2 separate regions of the Homo sapiens genome follow, and region 1 is linked to region 2. Evidence: fine-mapped QTL for protein levels in blood plasma. A gene starts in region 2. The other region holds a variant in brackets. All regions are shown on one strand. Distances are from middle to middle. Region 1 overlaps NFASC (neurofascin). Region 2 holds the start of NFASC (neurofascin).

Evidence for each region. A credible set is the group of variants that fine-mapping cannot tell apart. PIP is the posterior inclusion probability: the model's chance that the variant is causal. Protein levels are from the aptamer-based SomaScan assay of Sun 2018.
Region 1: its variant is the best candidate, but not a certain one, in a credible set for the plasma level of the NFASC protein (Sun 2018, PIP 0.52).

The regions. Positions count from the first base shown.
Region 1 is chr1:204,970,455-204,981,428 of GRCh38, forward strand. It overlaps NFASC (neurofascin), which reads left to right. Exons shown (of 30, transcript NM_001005388.3): 11 at 162-293; 12 at 2,822-2,965; 13 at 3,725-3,836; 14 at 4,203-4,369; 15 at 4,817-4,964; 16 at 6,217-6,341; 17 at 7,227-7,271; 18 at 8,514-8,615; 19 at 8,908-9,105; 20 at 9,916-9,986. Among named protein-coding and RNA genes, the nearest start is that of CNTN2, 67 kb to the right of the region's middle. RefSeq lists a silencer at 5,275-5,394. The variant T/C (reference allele first, on the strand shown) is at 5,734.
Region 2 is chr1:204,822,395-204,833,368 of GRCh38, forward strand. NFASC (neurofascin) reads left to right here and starts at 6,258. Exons shown (of 30, transcript NM_001005388.3): 1 at 6,258-6,388.

The DNA of each region.
Region 1 (10,974 bases), 150 kb after region 2:
GCTGGACCAAGTTATCCCTGTGAGGATGAGCCCTGGGGCAGGTGGTGAGCACGTGGTGCTGGGACTCAGGGGCTCCTGCCATACTAGAGGGAGACTGCTTGGTTTCTTCTGCCTGTCCCATGCCATCTAACTCCCCTGCCTGTGTCTGTCTTGTCTTCCAGCTGCTCCCTACTGGCTGGACGAACCCAAGAACCTTATTCTGGCTCCTGGCGAGGATGGGAGACTGGTGTGTCGAGCCAATGGAAACCCCAAACCCACTGTCCAGTGGATGGTGAATGGGGAACCTTTGCAATGTAAGTAGCGAGCTGTTGTCCCATCTGACTCTCATCTCTCTGCTGTCAAAGGCTTCAGATCCCCATCACTGTAGCCAGTGCTGGTCACACTAGAAGTTCAGGAAGAGAGAAGCCCACTGGTGGCTGTTTCTCAGCTGCCCATCTCTTCAGACATCTCAAGAGGCAGGAAACCTACCCTCTCTTTGTGTGAGAGAACAGGAGGCCTGGAACTCTGTGGTCATATTCCCATGCTTAAGGGATTTCTGCTCCCTTGGGGTTTTTTAAATCTCTGCTTTCTCCCTCTGAACAACTTCAGAGCCCAGTTGATGGCCTGGGGACTGTGGCTGCATCTCTGGGTGGTTGGGCTTTGAGTGATGGCTGGGGCTGGGAAGGTAGAGGAGAATTCAGTAACCCATTGTTGGTTACTCAAGTTCCGCTCTCTGCTAAGGGCAAAAGAAGAAGCAGGGTTGTACAATAATGTGAAATATTATGGTTAGATATGAGGAAGAACTGCCCCCAGAAGAGCAGATGTACAAGTGCACTTTATCGAGTATGCTTAGACTTTGGGGACATTTAGTCCTGCCCAGGTGGATGGAGTAGATGACTCCAAGACCCCTTATAATCAGTGGCCTTGGTCAAGTTTTCACATCATAGACTCTCTGGTTGCATTACTTTTCAAAATGTCCTGTCCTTACTTTCTCTAAGAGGTCAGAGGAAATGTAAACAATGGTATCAACCAAATGGGGAAAAAGTAGATGGCGAGAACTCAGTCTAACTCAAGAGCAGCAGCTGGTAGAAGCAGGTGGAGAGGGGGGGACACAGGTAGAGGAGAGGGTAAGAATTTACCTATTTAGACATATATTGTATGCCACATTCTGTGCTAGATGCTGCACTCCATTGTTGCTTTACTTTCAAACATTTAAGGTAAGGAAATAAGGTTCTCCTCAGTGCAATGAGTTGCCCAAAATCGCATGGCTAGGAAGTGGTGAAGTTGTGGGTTGCTGTGAGTCTGCAATACAACTGCACCAGCTAGTACTGAACCTAGTTATCCCCAGTAAATGTTACTCCCCAGCTACAAGCAGAGATATGGACACTGCCTGCCCTCTACAGTTCTCTCCGTCTTAATAGGACTTTGGGGGTAAGCTAGGCAATTGCGCTAAACTTTACAGCACCATTCAATAAAGCAGCTCAGGACTTGCAGCTGAGCCTCAGCCCTGGAAAGGTCACCTGTCACTCTCCCCAGGGAACGTGTAAGGAGAGTGACTGGGGGGATTATTGGTTGCACGAGAATTTGCCAGGCAAGGAGGTGTACAAGTTTCTGGCATTGCCTTCCTTGGTCCCTTTTCACTGAGTGGGGACCCGGGCGTGGATGATAAGGGTGCTAACTTTGTCTTCCTTTCCCATCTGCTGATTCCCCGGTTCTGGGCTCAGGCTGGCTATCTGTGGAGTGGCGCCTGCAGGGCGACTCCTGCATCCTCCGCTGACTTCCCCTGTAGGTCTGAGTCATCTTGAATGCGTTCATGTACTCTGTAAGCTAAGTCATCAGCTTCCTAGTCCAGAAATCTTAGGAAGGAAAGTCACTTTCTAGTGGTTAAAGATGAGAAAAGTGGCAATTCTTTACATTTCTAGAAAATTTTTGTTTTTACAGCTCATTATTGTTCTCTTATCTTAGCCTTTCTTAGAGTAGGGGAAAGGTGGAAGTGATTCTTCCCCATCTTACAGAAGAAGGAAATGAGGCCCAGAAAGGTTTGTTGATTTACCCCAGATCCCAGAGTGAAGTGTGGACCCCCAGCCCTCTCCAGCCTCTGCTCTCTGCATCCCAAGCCAGCAGTACTAGAACTGTGGGCAAGAATATCCTCTCTCAGTTTAGGACACATTTTTGGGGAAGAGCTGTGAGCTTTGTCAAATAAAATGACTCATTCCATTTTCAAGAGGCATTGGCTTATGGGTTTAACTTTATGAATGTTTGGAGCATGCTCTCTTTGGAGGATGGGAAGGTGGTAGGTTCTGTCTATTGTATACTGTTTTGTCCTTTTCAAAACACACTTAAATATATGCACATTCGATTAAAATGATAATAACAGTATGTGTTAGACCTTCTGTTCATCATTTTGTACATGCATAAAATCTCAGGTTATCTTCACAAAAACCCCATGAGGTGATCTGTTATTCCCATTCTGCAGACAAGGAAACTGAAGCTCACAGAGATTGAATGATGCTGGTAGGAAGTGATGTGGTTAGAACCAAAACTCCTTTCTGTTTCCAAAGCTAATGCTCTCAACCACAACTGCCCAATGGGTAGGTAGGTCGAACAGGAATTCATATTCCATACTCTAGGCTAGATTAGAAATAAACCCCAAAGGTTCAGAGAAGGGCTCAAGGTCACACACAGCCCAGCAGTGGCAAGGCCAGAAGCCCTGTCATCTGGCCCCCCATCTGGTGCTCCCCACAGCACCCCGCTTGTTCCTGGGAGCCCTGGCCAGAGCCCCAAGTGCCCTTCACCCTGCCCTCCCCATCTCTCATGAGGAGCGTCTCTTTCTTGTCTGTAGCGGCACCACCTAACCCAAACCGTGAGGTGGCCGGAGACACCATCATCTTCCGGGACACCCAGATCAGCAGCAGGGCTGTGTACCAGTGCAACACCTCCAACGAGCATGGCTACCTGCTGGCCAACGCCTTTGTCAGTGTGCTGGGTGAGTGTGCCCTTCGCAGCCTGTTTCCCCCTCCTCTCCACTACTGCACAGTCGCCCTGGGGCTTGGTTATGTCGTGGGGCACACTTTCTTCTCCGGGGATTGGCCAAGCTGGGTGAGGTAAGAGGATGTTGGATAGGGGAAACATGGAGATGGGAAAAAATTTGTGAGAGGGATGGAAGGGTCAAAGCTGGGAGGAAGTTAGCAGATCATCTGGATCAACCTCCTCATTGTACAGATGGAAGACTTAAAATTCACAAAGCTGGATGAGCAGACAGTTAATTCCATCAGAGCAGTCAATCTTAGTCTTCTCCCTCCCCTGATGAGATAGAGTGGGACTGTCCCATCGCCTTGGTGTATCCATGTTGACTTCCCCTGGGTTCGCAGCTGGATCTCACGGTGGGAAATGGTTCTGAGTATATTTGCTGTACCCGCTGGGCAGGGAGATGGTGGTGGAGGGGTAGCTAGGAAATGCCTTAGGGCTGTGATGGGGCAGCTATGGAACCTGCTGGATAATTTGGGGAGACCCTTTGCAAAAGCTGGATTTGGATGTAGGGTAGGTTGAGGGCAGAGGACGTAGTAAGCTTCTCCTTCCCCACCTAATCCTTAGGGGCTTCCTGAAGGAGGGAAGGTTGATAGGGGAAGGTGTCTCAGTGCCTGGGAAGCTGCTGTAAGCAGAAGGCATGCAGAGGTGAGACCGAGGGGGAAGAGATGGAAGAGTTTAGACTTGGCACTCGAGATTGCTTCTCTGGGAATTTCAGATGTGCCGCCTCGGATGCTGTCGCCCCGGAACCAGCTCATTCGAGTGATTCTTTACAACCGGACGCGGCTGGACTGCCCTTTCTTTGGGTCTCCCATCCCCACACTGCGATGGTAAGTTCCAGGAGATCAGGCCTTCCACAGCAGGGGTCACCTGTCTCATCTTCTCCTTCCCATCTGGCCCATAGTAGGTGTTCAGCAAGACCTGGGAATCTTAAAGGGTCAAAGCTGGGAGGAAGTTAGCAGATCATCTGGATCAACCTCCTCATTGTACAGAATGGGAAACCAAGACCTTGAGAGGGATGGAGGCTTGCCAGGGCCACCTGGTGGCTAGAGGCAGACCCTCCGAGGCTCAGGGCTCCAGTCTCCTAGCATGGGGCTCCTTCCACAGCCCCCATGGTCTCTCTTGATTGGCTGCTGCCCCTGCCCTTGGGCTGGTCCTGTCTCAGGATGCTGTGTGTTCTGCTGCTCTGTTGTGAGGTTTAAGAATGGGCAAGGAAGCAACCTGGATGGTGGCAACTACCATGTTTATGAGAACGGCAGTCTGGAAATTAAGATGATCCGCAAAGAGGACCAGGGCATCTACACCTGTGTCGCCACCAACATCCTGGGCAAAGCTGAAAACCAAGTCCGCCTGGAGGTCAAAGGTAAAGGAGAGGGTTCGCCAGTGGGAGTTTGGAGAGGGACAAGGAGGCCATGCTGGCAGTTATCCACATACAATATTCACATTGAAAATGCACCACACCTGTCTTTAACCTGGAGTGGGCTGCCCAGTTTGCACCTGTGGAGTCCTTTTAGGATCAGTGTGGTCCAAAGAGAATTAGGAAGGGAAACCTTCTGCTCACACCAACTCCCCACTACCAGCCCAGAAATTACATCATATATTCCTGAGCCAGATGGAGTGGATTTGGGGCATTATCTGCTTTGGGGATTACCCACCCAGAACTCTGCTCCGTTCATACCATAGCATACTGTTTGTGCCCCACTCCATAGTTGGCCCAAGGCCTCGAGGGCAGACATATGCCACTTTGTGGCCGCATGGGGATGCTGGGCAGAGAACAGGCCAGTGGCGAGTGCTCTGGGCTTCTCCACAGACCCCACCAGGATCTACCGGATGCCCGAGGACCAGGTGGCCAGAAGGGGCACCACGGTGCAGCTGGAGTGTCGGGTGAAGCACGACCCCTCCCTGAAACTCACCGTCTCCTGGCTGAAGGATGACGAGCCGCTCTATATTGGAAACAGGTTTCTCTTCCCCCTTCCCCCTTCCTAGTGCTAGTTTGAGGCGCATTTTCTTTTCCCTTGCTGTTGGTGACACATGGAAGAACACAGGGACAGGGAACCCGTGTCATGCATGTCACCAAGGAGCTTCTGCAGAGGGGGTGATGGCCTGGGCAACTCCCCTGCTTCAGGGGAGACCCCCCCACCGACCCTGTACAACCTCCCTCTCTCCCACCAGCTCCCTGCTTCTCTCTCCTACACCTCCTCTCTCTCCCTCTTCTCAATCTCTTCACTTCTCCTCTCCCTGTCTCCCCTCACTTCGCCTCTTTTCCCTTTCATTTTTGCCCCTGTCTTCTCTTTTCCTCCTTTGCTGCATCCCAGGCTCCAGCCTTTCAGCCCTATTTGCAGTACCCCTAATCTTCAGCAGAGGGCAGGGTTGATCTGAGCCAGCTCTCAGCCCTGACTGAACCTGGCATGCTTTTACCACACCCACGCCTGCCCCGCTCCTCAGACCCTGATTTCATTGGTGTAGGGTAGGACTTAGGACACTGGCAGGGTTTAAAAGTCCCCCTGGGGGTTCCAGTGTGCATCAGGGTTGAGAACCACTGTTCCGAGCCTCCCTCCCCAGGGCTTACTTTGCTTTACCTTCTTCCACCCCGAGGGAGCAAAGTTGTGCAGGGCCCTGCAGTTGGACACGGTACCAGCGGTTTCTAGCCATCATTTGACTTTTTGCAGAGGGTGTTCCCCTCTGTAAACCTTCTGGCACTCAGTGCTGACAGCTCTACAGCCCCAT[T/C]CTGCTCTGTGGCCTCCCCTCTCTATAGGAGACAGTTCCCAGGAGCCTGGGGTCAGGCTGGCCTGAGCATGGGTGCAGAGGAGACAAGTCTGGGCTGAAGACAGACAAAGCTACAAGTATGAGAGGAGAAGGAATACCAACCTACCTTGGGGTCATGGGCCTCATGGTGCCCTCATCTGGGAGGGGTGCACAGCACAGTAAAGGCACAGAGGCAGGCACACGTACAGAATTTGAAGGTGGCAAACGTGCTTCACAGCCACTTGAGCTCCGCCCACTCTCTGTTCCCCTCCATCAAGTATGATGAGTGCTCCAGGTGACTGTGAAGACCTCACCTCTGTCAAAGCATTGAGAGGGAGCCTCATACCCCCAGAAGGAGCTTCCCTTGCCCTCCTGACTCGAGAACCCCCTCTAGGGAGAAAGCAATGGGCAGGACTCAGCACTCCCCTACCCCCTCCTCCCAACCCTTCCTCGGTACCTTTGCAGGATGAAGAAGGAAGACGACTCCCTGACCATCTTTGGGGTGGCAGAGCGGGACCAGGGCAGTTACACGTGTGTCGCCAGCACCGAGCTAGACCAAGACCTGGCCAAGGCCTACCTCACCGTGCTAGGTAACTGCCCATGCTCACCCTGGCACTGACCAGCCCCACCCCCTCCCCAGCAGCCAGAGAAGCAGTGGCCCGGGGCAGTTCCGAGGGCAGTGCCTGCAGTCAAGTGGCCGGGTCAGGCGTGGTGATCTCTTCTTGCCTCGTGATGTCAGGGTTAGGGAGCTGCCAGTTTCAGAACAAGCTGTGCTGGACAGGTTACCTCCTGAGTGGAGTCATTAACTTCCCCACGTCTCAACTGAAAGGGGCCTGAGTGATATAGAGAAAGTGGAGAGGGGTTTCTCGTTGTGATCATTTTACCTTTCTTACAGCTAACTCCACCACTAAGTCAATTAAAACAATCCATCCTTAAAGCAAGACTGAGTTTGTGTTTGTGCTTCCAATGACCTCTGCCAGCCTTCCTTTCCCTCCCGCTCCATCCCTGGGTTTTGGTAGCGTTTCATCACATGCTATGCACTAAGCAAGATGACGTTGTGTCTTCCTGTCCTGCACCCAGGCTGGACTGTAAATACTAAGCTAACCCAAACCAAGAGGAAGGAGGCCTCTCCCTTCCAGGCAAGCAGGTCCTCTGTCACCTCTGCCTCCCCGTGGGTGCCCTACTGCCACTAGCATTGGCGCAGTGGAGAGGCACAGTTGCAGAGAGGGTGGGCCCAGACACGATAGTCACATTGGGATGGTAAGGAAACAGAGGTGCCGCCCCCAGCTGTGGAGGAAACACAGATGGCCTCTATAAGGGTAGGGGATTCCCCATGGAAGGACGGGGACAGCCCTGCCTAGAACACCTCAGCCCAGAGGCAGCTGTTTAAGCCTCGGCTGCCTACCCCCATCCTTCTAGAACACCTTTAATGCTGGATAACCTGCTAACCTGGATAACCCGTCTTACCTTTGCAGCTGATCAGGCCACTCCAACTAACCGTTTGGCTGCCCTGCCCAAAGGTAATTCCCACTAATCACAGTCCCCTGCCAGTGCCCTCTCTTGGCACCCAGGGTGTGGAGTCTGGGAGAAGGAAGCCACTTTGGGAAAGGGCGACAGTGTGTAGGTTTGTGGGCAGCACTCCTGGCTACATGGGACCTCCTTTGAGTTGCCCACGTCCACCTCCCCACGGCCCTTTGCTGGGCTTCCTGCTCCTTACAGGGTGAGCTCGGAAGTTCTCGGCTGCTGTTTTACCCCATCCCTTGCCTCCATCCACACTCACCGCTCCCTCAGGGTGGCCTGTCCTCCCAGCAGTCTTTCAGGTCCTGTTTGCAGGGAATGCGAAAGCCTGCTCCCTTCACATCACCTGGAAACTCATTGTTCAGCCTCCCTGCATCTATTGCTTTCTATCCATTTACAATCTACACACACATGCCACACATACGTGAACGTGGGCCTGTAGGACTCACCTTCCAAGTCCTTCTAGTGACCATCTGAAAGATGGAAATACCTGGTTCAGGGAGTCAAGATGGAGAGAAAATCTTGCCTACCCGTACCACTCAGTAGCCGATGTCTTTATCCCAGGCCAGGATGGCACTTAGACCCACTAAAGCAGTCCCAGTGAGATTCATGCCCTAAAAAAGGTGCTGCCCTCACCCCTGTTTGCAAGCCTGCTAGGCTTCTGTCCTGCTGTCCATCAATGAAATGCCTAAGCCAAGTCTCCATCTCCTCCCTGGTCTGATCCCCTCTCTTTGTTGCCCCCACTCCCCTAACCCATCTGCCATGTTCAGCAGGCCAAGCCCTCTCCTGGGTTCCCATCTCCTCAGAGCCTTGGCACACAAAGTAGAGGACAATTAATGTGAGAAAATGGGACAGAATCCCACACTCCCTCATCAGCCTTCCTAAGTGTCGTGAGCATGGGTCTGATGACGGGTGGCATTCCTGAATGCTTGCACTCTCAGAAGATCCACCAAGACGGAATGGCGTTGGTCCCAGTTCTGTCTGCATAAGCCCCTTTATTTCCTTGTTCCACACCCATTGATATTCTTTGTGGGGGGGGGCTGGGATTTCAGGAGTCTCCTCTTTGTTTTCCCTTGGGCCCCTGTGGGAAGGGAGTGGTCCCTGTGCTCACCCCTCAGGGCAGGCTGGGGTTGGATCCAGCTGGTAGCGAAGACAGCCCGTCAGGGAGCTGTCCAGGGCTAGGGCCATCACAAGGGTGGACCTGCTCTAACTCAGGAGGCCTGCGTGGTGTCTTCTGCCACCAGGACGGCCAGACCGGCCCCGGGACCTGGAGCTGACCGACCTGGCCGAGAGGAGCGTGCGGCTGACCTGGATCCCCGGGGATGCTAACAACAGCCCCATCACAGGTAGCTCAGGGCCTTGCACCCCAAAGCTGGAAAAGAGGGACGGCAACACCCTTAAACCGAAGGCCTTTCCTGGTTTCCAGCCCCACTTCTGCCTCGCTTGATGTGTGTCCTGGGCTAACCTCAGAATGTACAGAGGCCTTGGTGTCTCTTCCTGTGCCTTGGGAAGAATTCTCCTTGTGCCTTTGTGTGAGAGAGATTATAAAGATCAATGGAAGCCAAGAAGGAAGTGCTTTTAAAGAAGACCACTGCTAACTGAGCTCCCGAAACAGCTCTGTTTTCCTTGCCCACTCAGACTACGTCGTCCAGTTTGAAGAAGACCAGTTCCAACCTGGGGTCTGGCATGACCATTCCAAGTACCCCGGCAGCGTTAACTCAGCCGTCCTCCGGCTGTCCCCGTATGTCAACTACCAGTTCCGTGTCATTGCCATCAACGAGGTTGGGAGCAGCCACCCCAGCCTCCCATCCGAGCGCTACCGAACCAGTGGAGCACGTGAGTACCCGAGGGCTGCCAGAGAAGGCTCCGGAACCCCGCACCCCAAACTCACACTGAGATCCCCCCATTCCCAGCCATGTGAACTTAGGTTACTTAACTTCTCCAAGGCCCGGCCTCATCTGTGAGGCAGAGAGTAATAATAACACCTACATCACAGAGCTGTTGTGAACATTTGAGAATGTGTGCCAGGTACTTACTATGATGCCTGGCATGTAGTGAGCACATGATAAATGCTAACTTCCATTTTTATTATTAGTAATTCTTGATTATCTGCTTTAAAGGGGAGAGCTGTGGCAAAGAGGTACAGCAGAAATACATAATTCAGTGTGAGAAATATATAAATTGGTATTACATCAGATTTCTTTTCCTAACACTCTTGGGTAATATTTGGATTTCTGAAATCACACCAGCTCATAGAGGGTAGAGATGCTGCCCAAAAAAAATGTTAAATGCCAGGGATAAGCCAGTCTGGTATGAAACACATTTAGTGGATAATCCACAAAGGAGCTAATCCACATTGAGTTGGCTTACTGACCACCCACAGTGTGGAAAGCCTTATGATAAATGCTGTCTGGTAAAGGATTAAAATTCAGAAGAAATTAGCCCTGCTCTGGGAGTTTAAATCTCAGCTCAAAAGGCACATCATGCACAGAGTAAGCTCATTTACATACCAGACCAAGCGTATACATAGATGCCGAGGAAAGACAGAGCATAGAACAGACCCATCAGGTAGGACAGAGGAAGGTTCCTTACCTTGCCCTGGAAAGGCACAAATTGGACTTGAGCCTGTGTCTGTTTGGGTTCCAGCCCCCGAGTCCAATCCTGGTGACGTGAAGGGAGAGGGGACCAGAAAGAACAACATGGAGATCACGTGGACGGTAAGAGGCCCTCCCAGCCCCAGTGGAGCAGCTCACCTTGCCGCATGCACCGGGAGCCCCTCTCCCTTGATGCCCCGACACTACGAGGCCATGATGTGGTTCAGACTCTCTGGCTGGTCTTGGTGGCCATTCTTCTTTGAGAAACCAAGCTCCTCTCTGAGTTGGGCATCCAGAAACCAAACAGGACAAATGTCTAAGTGTAAGATTTCAGAGAGGAGACAGGAGCAGAGGGGACCAGGGTCCACCGACTGCCAGTCTAGCAAAACGCATAGAGGATGCAGCAAAATCAAGCAGACTTCTCTTGAAGGAGGAGGGACTGGGGTTAGACTTTAGAAAAGATCTAAGCACAACACCAAACCAAGTTCTGGTGTGTCCTAGGGCCCTTTCACTGGAGATTTGTGGGAGCTGGGGAGAGACCAACATCTGAGATGTGTCCAGTACAGGCTTTCTTTTGGTCCAAGAATGGACTAGGTCATTCCAAAGACTCCCTCTGGTCTTAGAAAATCCCATCTTCATGCTGGCTCACTGACTACATTTTCCAAACCAAAACTGGAGTATGTGGTCTCAAAATGACTTTTTTCCCAAACCACTTCCCAGTCTGAGAATGCAAACGCAGCCACTGAAATATTAACATTTCTGAGCTTCTGCCATGAGTAATGGAAACTGGGAGATGCAGTGTTTGGGATCATGACCTTCCCTGTCTTTCTGAAGGCTGCTCCCACAGCAGCCTTGGCCAAACAGGGCAACGGCAGCTGGGCTGAGCCCAGATTCAGGACCCTGGTCTGTGGCTCTGTATAGCAGGCTCCAAGAGGACTGATTCCTGGGCCAGGCCCTTAGAAAATAAAGAGCAGAATCACACCCATGTTTAAAGAACTCTGACCTCTTGGGAAGGACAGGACAGACACACACAAATTCGGTAGAACTAAAGTCCATTCTGGAATTTTGAGTTCATTAGCAGGAGCCATGCTGTGGTTAACCACAACTCATT
Region 2 (10,974 bases):
CTAGGAAACTTCCAGTTGGAAACGCAGTGCAGTAAGTGCTATGAGGGAAGCCCTTACTGTGTACACTGCTGCACAGATGAGAGGCTGAGTCTGGCAGAGGAAGAGTTTTTTGTTTTGTTTTGTTTTGTTTTTCACACCAGAGATGTTTAAGCTGAGTCTTCAGAAAGGAGTACATCACAAAGACAAAGTGAGTAAGGGCTTTCCGGAAAAGAGATTGTTTTAATATATTTTGTTTTGGGTTTTTTTTTTTTTTTTTTTTTTTAAGGACCAGAATGTCTCACTGTGTTGCCCAGGCTGGAGTGCAGTAGCTATTCACAAAAATGGTCATTGCACAATGAAGCCTCCAATACCTGGGGTCAAGCAATCCTCCCACCTCACCCTCTCAAGTAGCTGGGACTGTAGGCATGCGCCACCGCACCAGGCTTTTAATATGTTTTAACCATTTGATTAAGATGAAATGAATGCCTTTGTGGTTAGCTGGGCACAATCACTCTCAAGACTATTAACACAAATACGTTTGCAAGACAACTGCAAAAGGAAAAGCTCTTTTGATAAAGGTTTTCTAAATTCCAGGGTTCCCACCTGGGGAGGGACCATATTTCCCTGTCTAGGGACAGGATTATGAAGCAACCCACCTAGAAGACCAGTCCTCAAAGTCCTCCAGAAAGACAAGGTTTCATATGTTTATAGAGAGAGTTTGCAGTTGGGCTTTTCTTGCTGGTTGGCTCATTAGAAGTAAGAGAGAGAGAAATAGCTTATTTTACTACTATTGTTAATAAACAGGTATAGGCCTGATATGGTTTGGATCTGTGTTCCCACCCAAATCTCATGTCAAATTGTAATCCTCAATGTTTTAGGTGGGGCCTGGTGGGAGGGGATTAGATCATGAGAGTGGTTTCTCATGGTTTAACATCATCCTCCTTGGTGCTGTCATCGCGATAGTGAGATCTGGTTATTTAAAAGTATGTGGCACCTCCCCTTCACCTCTCTTCCTCCTGCTCTGGCCATGTGAAGATGCCTGCCCTTCTGCCATCAGTAAAATTCCCTGAGGCCTCCCCAGAAGCTGATACTGCCATGCTTCCTATACCACCTGAAGAACCATGAGCCAACTAAACCTCTTTTCTTTGTAAATTACCCAGTCTCAGGTATTTCTTTATAGCAATGACAGAACAGACTAATACAAGGCCTTTCATCATGGTAGAGAAAGACTCCAAAAATCCTACTCTTTCTAATATATTTATGCAGGTGAAATTCAAAGGTAGTCTTTAAAGGTGGAAACATGCTCTGTATAAAAGCAGACGGTGGGGCAGTTCCACCCTTTGCCTCCCTCACTCTTGGAGCAGGGACAGGTCTGATACCCAGGCCTAGAGTCAAGGCTGGTTAATGGCTATTCCAAAGCTTCTCTCTCCTCCTCTCTAACTTCCCCATTCACTGCCCCATCTCTCAAATTCCATTCCAGGAATGGAATTTCACCTACGTACAGTGGAAGACTAATTCTATGTAGCTTGGGGAGGTCTCTGCATCTGGAAGGTAAAAGCTCTAACACATGCACATTTCCAAGTGACTTCATAAACTGAGCTCTATGGCTGGCCCTTGGCAGTGGTGGGCAAGAGGCAACTCCCAAGGAGATTTTTATTTTTTAATTTCAAAGCGGGAAGTAAGAGAGCAGATGGAAAGATGCTCTCCAGCTTGGAGTTGGGCTGAGTGCTTCCTTTCCTTTGGCTACTCCCCAGCATGGGGGGAAGAAAATTCTAGGCACTTGAGAATGTGACAGGTGTTGGGGGGTGATGAGGACCTGCAGACAGCATGGGGTCTCCACATCTGCCACTGCTTTGGATCACCAGCATGTGTGCACTGGCCAAATGGGAGAAGGACCAGAGCCCTGTTCCTGGATCCCTCCCTCCTTCCCTTAATGCTGTGTGCAAATTGGGATGCAACTTTCCCCCTTGGCCTAGGGAGAGACTAGAAGATGCTGAGGGAGAGATGAGATAAGAGATCAAAGAGTCTAGTAGCTTCTTGGGGGACCTATGGGAAATTCCTAGTGGTTTTTCCCATTGGCTTTCACTGCACCTGTCTTCCTGCCCTCCTGCATTATGGGGGGGGCCTATATTCCTGGAACTTTCTAAAATTTGCCCCTCTACATTCCTTCTGAACATGCTACTCTGCTTGCTTTTCTGCATCCTCATCCACCTGCTTTGCTAGAGCTCAGCATGACTATCACTCTGCTCTTGTTCTTCCTCATGATAGTGACACAGGATTGTTCCCTTGACCCCCTTTGTGGGCAGGAACTGGAGTGGCTCATTTCACTCAGCCTGCTGATGGCCACTCCTGGCAGAAGGGAGTGTGTGAGTGAGTGCGGGAACCAGAGTGAACGAATGCTAGAACTAGCCGGTCACTCCTCTCTGGTGGGAGCAAGCTCTGTGTGGGCCCTGCAGCAGCATCCAAGTGTGTTGCAATGGATGCTCTTTCAGCTCTGCTGTCCAGAGATGGCCAAGTGTCAGTCAGCTCAGTGGAAGGTCAGGGTGGCAGCCCCTGCCCTCTCAGCACCCGGGTTCTTGTCCAGTGTCCAGGAAGAATCAGGTCACATGAACTGTTTGAAAGGTGATGAGTGTGGAAGACTTTATTGAGTGGTGGTTGGCTCTCAGTGGAAAGGGAGCCTGGAAAGGGGATGGGAAGGTAATCTTTCTCTGAAGCCTGGCTGTCTCCATCTGGGCCCCTCTCTGAAGCCACACTGCCTGAAATTAGCCATGTCTATCCACAGTCTCTGATGTTCAGTTGCTTCTCTGCTCACTGCTCAGCCACTTGTCTCCTTGCCACTCAGCCACTTGTGTTTCTCTGCCAGCTAAAGTCTTTTATGGGCAAGGGATAGGGGCAGGGCAGGCCAAAAAGGCAACATTTGGGAGGAAAAGTGGGGTCAGCTATATCCACTTAGGGCCACAGTTCCAGGCTTAAGGGTGGGGTTTAGCCGGGAGCCCAGCCCTTTTGTATCAGTGGCAGAGTTTCTGTCCTTTGGCACTTGTTATACAATAGGTCGGCGTAAGGGAGTGTTGTGCAGTGGGAGAGGGTACACCCTGGAGACTCTAAGATCTTTGTCCAACTCCCAATTCCACCACTTACCATCTACAGAGTTAGGAAGCAGTCCCTGAGACCATTCTTACTTCTGACCAATTGCAAGCTCAAGCATTCCCAAGACCCCTCTTAGGTCAGTAATTTATTAGAAGGACTCATAGAACTGAGAGCTCATAGGCTCATAATGGTGGTTTATTACAATAAAAGGATACAGATTAGAATTAGCCAAAAGAAGAGACAGGTCAAGCAGAGTCCAGGAGAGTTGCATGTGCAGAGATCGCAGTTATTCTCTCTTGATGAAGCTGAGGACAGTGCTAAAGTCTCCCAGGAACAATGTGTGACACTGCATGCAAAATATTGCTAATCAGGGAAGTTCTTCCAATCCTTAGTGTCCAGGGATTTTATTGGGGCTCAGTCATGTAGTCATGGCTGACCATCCAAGTGGTTGACCTTAGTTTCTAGCCCCTCTGGAGGTTGAGCCGATGCATGCCCAAAGACCCCACCATCCATCATTGTTAGTATAGACTACCTGGTTTTGCCCAAGACCCCCAGGTAGATAAAGATACTCTTATCAGGTGAGATAACCAAGGACTCAGAGATGACCTCCCAGGAGCCAAGGACAAAAGTCAGATCTCTCTAGGGGCAAAGCTAACACTGTACCACACCCCATCTGTGTGATGCTGTACTCTTATTAACCTCACTGGGCATCTATTTCCTCATCAGTAAATTGGGGACAATGATCCCCACCTCACTGGGGTTTCTGAGGAATGAGTAACATAATATATGCAAAAGGCCTAGTATGTGAAAGGCTTCAACAAAAATTAGGTCCTTCCTAGTAAGCTTAAGGGCCTTTGCTCTTATCTTCTAAACTAGCCCAGGGCATTATTCCCTCTTTCCTCTTCTTCCCACCCTGTCTCCCAATTTGCTTTCCCTTTTCCCCCAGAAAAGGATAATACCTTTATTCCCTGTATGTCATTATTAACTTGCTTTTTAAAAAACAAATGTGTGTGTGTTATCATTGTTATAATTTTTAAAACTGTGCTATTGCATGGATTATTACAATGGATGTAATCATTGTCCTCTTGAGCCGCACTGAGTATCCTTGTGCATACACATCTTTGTGGATTGGGCCAGTGATTCTGCAGGCTGGATTCTTTGAGGTGGCATTGATGGGTCAAGGGTGTCATTAAAGTCTTGATGGTACTGCTGTATTGCTCTCCCAAAAAGGCCATACCAAGTTAAACCTCCACCAATGATGCACGAATCTGCCAGTTTCCCCACACTTCCTAGGGACCAGTGTGGAAGAGGATGGCTTCAAGTGCCCGAGACTCATACCTGGGGCTTTCTCTTGGTCTGAGCCCAGGATGAGGCAGGGCTTATGGAATTTCATTGGGAGGAATGAAACACTAGGGAATGTGAAAATCCTGTGACTTGCCATTCACCATGACAGAGGACACAGTGAGTGAGGTTTCAGGTCTGGGTTGAAAGTCCATGCTTGCTGAGGGTTCCAGCCAGAACTAGAGGTGCAAACCCAGGGAAGAAAAAGAAGCAGGAAGGCCAGATAAATGTCAGGAAAGAAAAAGAGCAACCACTTTCTGCCCTCGGTCCTGAGTGAGTCTGTTCCTGACACAGCAGCAGAACAGCCTGCAAGGTGCGTAGGCTCTTCTTAGTCCCCAGAGTCCATCACCAGCAGGGGGTGCCTCTCCCTCCATCAGGACTTGCCTGCAGCTCTGGGACACCACCGAGGCCAAGGAAACACCTTCACCCTCAGGGCCTCTGGGGGTCACCATGCTCCCTTTAGGCCCACACTTAATTTCTTTATACTAAGGCCATGAAACTTGAGTCCCAGTTCAGTTTCAACCACCAAACCACTGTGTGGGGTCCATCTCTCTAGACCTTCGTGTATTTGCTGTTTAAAAGTAATGAAGAAAGGGGAGGGAAGGCTGAACAATAATTAACATTTGTAAAGAACAGTTTGGTTCAGTACCTTATCTCATTGATGCTCACTCTATGCCCATTTTACAGATGGGAAAAAGAAGACTTAGAGAGGTTAAGTGAACTGCCCAAGTTTACCCTGCTGGTAAGCCAGGACTTTCTTGGCAAATCCTGTGATCCTTCAACTTGACCATATTAGAAGATTCTAGTATTGGTGAAATCTAAAACTTGTAGGGCCCATCTTAAAATAGCAAAGTAGTTTTAACTAGGCACTGTCAGATGCATCTGGGCTTTGAATTATTACTTGGGCAGGTTCCTTGAACTTTGGTGTTCTCATCCAGAATAAAAGACAGTGGTGCCAGGGTAGGAGCTATGAGCACAGAGAAAGTAGCCCTTGAATGGGGCCACAGAGGGATGCTGCAGGGGACTGTAGTTTTGGATGAGGAGCTGAACTAGAAGCTTCCAAGTGCTCTTCCAAGACAAAGATTCTATGATTCCCTAACTGGGATCTTTCCACTGTTTCAGGTGATAATTCTGAGCTCAGATCCTGTGCACAGAACCTAATGCAGTCTTCGTGTCAGAGCTAGAAGAGACCTTGGGCGACCACCCAATCAACTTTTCATGGTTCAGTTGTGGAAACTGATGTCCACAGATAAATGTCTTGCTATCATGTCAGATAGTTCTCCAGCCACGACTGAGGCCTGAGTCCCCCTAGGGCAGAGGAAATCTCCCATTTCTAAAAGAAAGCCCCGCACTGTTCATAGCAGTCACAACCTCTCTCACATCCCTGAATCAGGATCCAACGACTTGCCAATCAACAAATGTTGCTGGAGAGTTTACCACAAACAAGTCTCTGTGCTAGGCCCTGAGAACACAAGCTGTCCGGCAACTTCCTGCTCCCTAAAGTCACAGTCTATGGTGGAGGTGCAAACAAGCGATCCTGTTGGGGCTTCAGGGTACTTCCTCCTGTGTGCTTTGCACGTAGTAGGTGCTCAGCGAACGGAAACGGGGAGACTAGTTATCACTCTCCAGGCAAGCCCGCAAAGAGGCCTCAGGTGAAAAGAGAAAGGAGGATTTTTTTTTCCGGCCCTGGCTCTGCGCACCGCTCCCCAGCGCGCCAGGCGGGGCTGCGTCCGGAGCATCCTTCCCTCCGCCTCTGTCCTGGTCCCCGCTCAGCGGCCGCTAGGAGCGCGAAGGGAGGGGCGCGGGGGCGCGCACGCAGGGTGTCGGGGGCGCGCCGGCCGCCCGGGGACGCGCACGGGCTGGTCTCTGCCCTAATGCGGCGGCTGGCGGCGAGAGGCGCTGCAGGGGACGCGGGGGAAGTGGCGGCGCCGGCAGCGGACAGCTCGGACAGCGCCCAGGGCCGGAGCCCGAGCCCTTGGAGGTAGGCGAGCGCGAACACCGGAGAGATGGGGGTAGAGAGTCATGGAAACCCACCTAGCGACACCCCCTTGTTCCCGCCCTCGTCTGTCTCCATCCCCTGACCTGCCCCCTCCCCCTCCGTCCACATTCCCATCCCTTCCCCTCTCCACACTGTCACCTGCCCCGAATCCATCCGATTCTGTTCGTATGCCCACCCCGTCCCCGTCCAGCTCCCAGCCCCCTGCCCACCCCAACACCCTTTCTATCTCGTTGGCCGCGTCCCCTCCCCCTTCCCGCATCCTCAACCCTTTCCCTTTCCTCTCTGTCCCCGCCTCATCCGTGAGCCCTGCCTGCCCTTGTACTTCTGTTTACCTCGACACCCCACTTTGGATGACCCCATGCCTCCTGTATTTCCTACCGCACACATCAGCCCCTTCTTGCCTCCCCTATTCTCTTCCCCATCTCATGCCCCTACCAGTTGGTGTCCTGTCTCTCCATTTGCTCCCTCAGTTTCTGTCCTCCCCTGGTTCCCCCTTGCACGCCCTGTCCCAGCCCCTTCCCAGCTGCCTCTTGGTGTCCTCCTGCATCACAGTCCCTCTCAAGAACCCCGCCTTCTCCCCCCTTTGGCTGTTAGCTGGCCTGACACCCGTCACCTTCCCTAGCTGCCCTTCCTGGTGCTGTGTGGAGCCATACAGCCTGTACCCAGCCCTCCCTCAGTGGCCTCTGGACCCCCCTTCCCTGGGTGGGGATCTTGGTTGTGGAATATAACCCCTTTCTGCATGTTCGATCCTATTTGTGGCTTGGGGAAGAATGCTGGGGGTTAGTAGGCCTCTCTCTTATGTTCCTCTCCAGCCATGCAGCCACTCTACTCCTCTAGCTGTTCAGGTTTGTTTCCTAGATGGATTGGGGGAGGGGGTGCTAGGCATTGGGAAACTAGGATGGGGAAGGGGCAGGGTCCAGGGGAATGACTGAGCAGACTCCTCCTGGGGCTTGGCCTGAGCCCTGATGTAAAGGCCTGGATGAGGAGCCCTGCTGGAGGGCTGGATAATTTTGGATTTTAGAAAAGATTCTGCTTCAGCCTCCAAGTCAGCACTTTGGCATCTGGAGCTGTCATGAGTGTGGCCCATGGGCTGGGCCAAGAGTGGGCAGAGTGCTGAATCACCTAGAATCTGGTCCCCATGGCAGCCCCCATCCTGTCCTGAGCCAGGTTCTGCTCCTGACTCCTTCCTTGGCATTTTGGCATGGGGTGTGTGTGTGTGTGTGTGTGTGTGTGTGTGTGTGTGTGTTGAGCAGAGATGCCTCATCCCTCAGTGTGGGGGAGAGGACAACAATACCCCTTTTCTGCCTGCCTGTGTCCCTGGCATGAGGGCCTAGTGCGTCTCATCTACCCTTGGAAATGTGCTGGGCCCTGCTGGGCCTCAGTCAAATCTCCAGCAAGGCAAGGGCAAGCCACAGGGCTTTGAGACCTGGTTGGACAGGAGTTTAATTGTTTGTGTGGAGCCAAAGCCAGCCTCAGAGCCCACAGAACTTAAAGCAATAGGAGAATAGCCCAGGGAAAATGTGTGTGAAGAGTGGAAGCCTCTGGGGATAGGGGCCATACCAGCTGTGAGGTGGGGGCAGTGGAGGAAGGCAGGCAGAGATCTATCCTCCTTCTGGTTTGGGGATGATTGGATGTGGTGGAATTGCATTGCAGGAAGAATTGAAGGAGATGGGGGCCTGCTACGCAGCTAATACATTTCACCTTTTGTCTTGACTGAGCTGGCACTTCGGAGGGAGTAATTTCTCCCCTTGTCTTTGGATTCAACTGAAGGGGTGTGTTGTGTGTGTTGTGATGTGTGTGTGTGTTGTGATGTGTGTGTGTGTTGTGATGTGTGTGTGTGTTGTGTGATGTGTGTATAGAGAGAGAGAGAGAGAGAGAATTATGCCAGTAAGGAAAGAGACTCACTCCCACTTAGCCCCAGAAATTGTGGTTGCCACTGTGGAACAGGGAATGGCAGCCCGATTCCTGTCTTAGGGGCTTAGACGAAACCCAGAGGCTTAAATTGAGGCGTTAAGAGCGAATTGCAGACAGACTCTGTCCCTTCTCTGCAAGGCTTTCACTTTAGGAATCCAAGTGACTGGACTCCTTCAGCTCCTGTGCAGTAAACTCTGAATGGGCCTCAGGCAGTGCCTGGCAAGGGGATGTGCTGCTGGGGGCACTGGCTGCACCTTGCTTTGTCACCCTTCTCCGTCGCCTCTCCAGCGTGAGAGGGGGTGGGGCTGGAAGCTTTCCCTGGCATCAGTGCCTAAGGGCTGCCAGCTTTTCCTGGTACAGGGAGAAAGCATTACCTGCAGCCGTTGTTGAGAGCTGATTGGATTAAGGTCCTGATGTTGAAATGCTTGACTGGAGCTCAGGTGAAGTGGGGGATTCTAATAACAGTGTACATATTTCCCAGTTTTGTGCAATGAATTTCACCCCTCACCCCCTTGTTTGGCATCAGAAAGAGTACGGAGAAATAAACCAAGGCACACGGAGGGAGAAGCCAGCTCCCCAGAGAGCTGGAGCAAGACCTTCCAATTGTACCTAGCCAGCTCCCTGTGGGCTGAACTGGCTGCGCTCACAAGGGCTGGTTCTTTTAAGGCACACATTGAAGAGGTGGCTGAGAGCTGGGGGTGGGGTTCTGGCTTTGCATTTCTGGGGTGGGTGGGCCAGAGGAGGGTCTGATTTCTGTGGTGAGTGAGAGACAGGATGCCAAGGCTCTGATCAGTATATTGCAACTTGTTTCCTACCTCTGGCTCCACTCTTCTCCCTCAGGCTTTTTTGGAGGCCAGAGGCACCCTGAGATCTTCAAGACCATGGAGGAGCTGGAGTGTGAGAATCATCCCTTTGTCTTTAGAAAAAGAAATTCTTAGGAAATCAGAGAGGGGGAAGCAGAAAAATTCAGTTCTCAGTCTGTTTGCCTGGGGTGATGTTTGGGGTGGGGAGGGGAGAAGTGAGAGGAACGTAAGGCCGGTTTCATACTTACTCATTTAACAAAGATCCATTAAGCCCTACGGTGTGCTGCTCTGCTAGGTGCTGAGACCATAGAGATGAAAAGTAAGCTAGGGTCCAATCTCTCCGAGCTCCTGGGCAATGGAAGAGGAAGACAGGTGATCAGACAAATAACAGATAAGCTTGAGCAAGAGCATCCGGATAGGGATGTTACACAGCGGGATCTTTAATTCCAGTGGTATCAGCACCCTGCTCTCCACAGCTATGAAGAGGGCTTGGCTGATGCTATCCGGAATGGTAGCTCAGGGCTGACCCTGAAGTTGACTCTCAGGAAAAGGGTAGGGGACAAGATGAGGTTCAAGGTGTTGTCAGATCCCCAGCTTGAAGGGCTAGAGGGGTAATGTTCTGTGTGAACACCTGTGTGAACAAGGTGAACCCGGCTAGATGTGGCTAGAACCTGATAGGGGAATACCCAAAGGGAGCTCTGTGATGAGGTCGAGGCTGCTTAACTCTCCCAATCCCATCTTCTAAGCTCTTGTATTTTAGGGGTAAAGTGTGGCTGGATATGCTTAGAATGTCAGTGAGTCAGAGGAAAGAGGCTCTGGGAGCTACTCGTGTGTAGGCAAGATGCACAGGGATGTGCTGAGAGGCAAGGCGAGGAAAAATATTGTGAGGACTGCAAGGTTCACACACCTGCAAGGTGTGTGAAAGGATTTGGCATTATGGGGAGGTCAGAGTCAGGTGGGAGTCATTGATGGGGAGGGCAAGTTGTTGGTAAGCAGGAGAGGTCCTTAGAAGCTATACACTTGACCACAGATTCCCGCAAATATCCATAGCCGAAGTGGGAAAATAGCCTAAGGAGAGAGACTGTCAGTTTCATCTGTCTGAGTAGCCCCTCTTTTCCCCCACACACCCATTTTTGTTCATTTCATCAATGTATCCTGAGCCTTTGAATCTGTCAGGAGCTGTGCAAGCTATTGGGCATGTAAGTCAAATTGGAGACACAGAAATGAAACCAAATTAAGACTCAGCACAAGAACTGCTATAATTGAGGTTAGATGAATTCCTGGTGTTGTAGGAGCATGGCTGAGGGGTCATAGTGAGCAGTAGGATCTGGAGTGATTGCACCAAACTGTCTGGACAGACCCCTGCCTTGGCTTGAGCAAGTTGATGACAAACCTTTGGGCACTTACAATGCCCAGCTAAGGCCCAGGTCTAGCTGCAAGGGCCCAGGCCTAACTGTAAGGGCAGATGTTGGATGCATATGGCCTGGTCCCTGGACTGCAGAAGAGGGCCTGGGAGTTAATGGCTGTGCGGGGTGCTTGAGTAGGCACTTCCACAGCTTTGCTGACCCAGGACATTGGTTAGATTGTGCCAGCTTGAGAACTCTCAGGCCACCCTTTTTTCATTAGGTCTTGAGGCAAGCCAGAAAAAAATAAAAGTGGCGTAATAACAATAGTCACCATTATCGAGTTCTTTCTATGTGCTAGGCACCCTACTCTATGCTTTATATGCATCATTTCATTTCATCCTCAAAGGGTTAACCCTACAAATGAGATATTGTTAAGTTGCTGGTTTTACAGAAAATGACAGATTCAGAGAAGCTGTTACTTGTTGAAGATTACAGAACAGGTGAG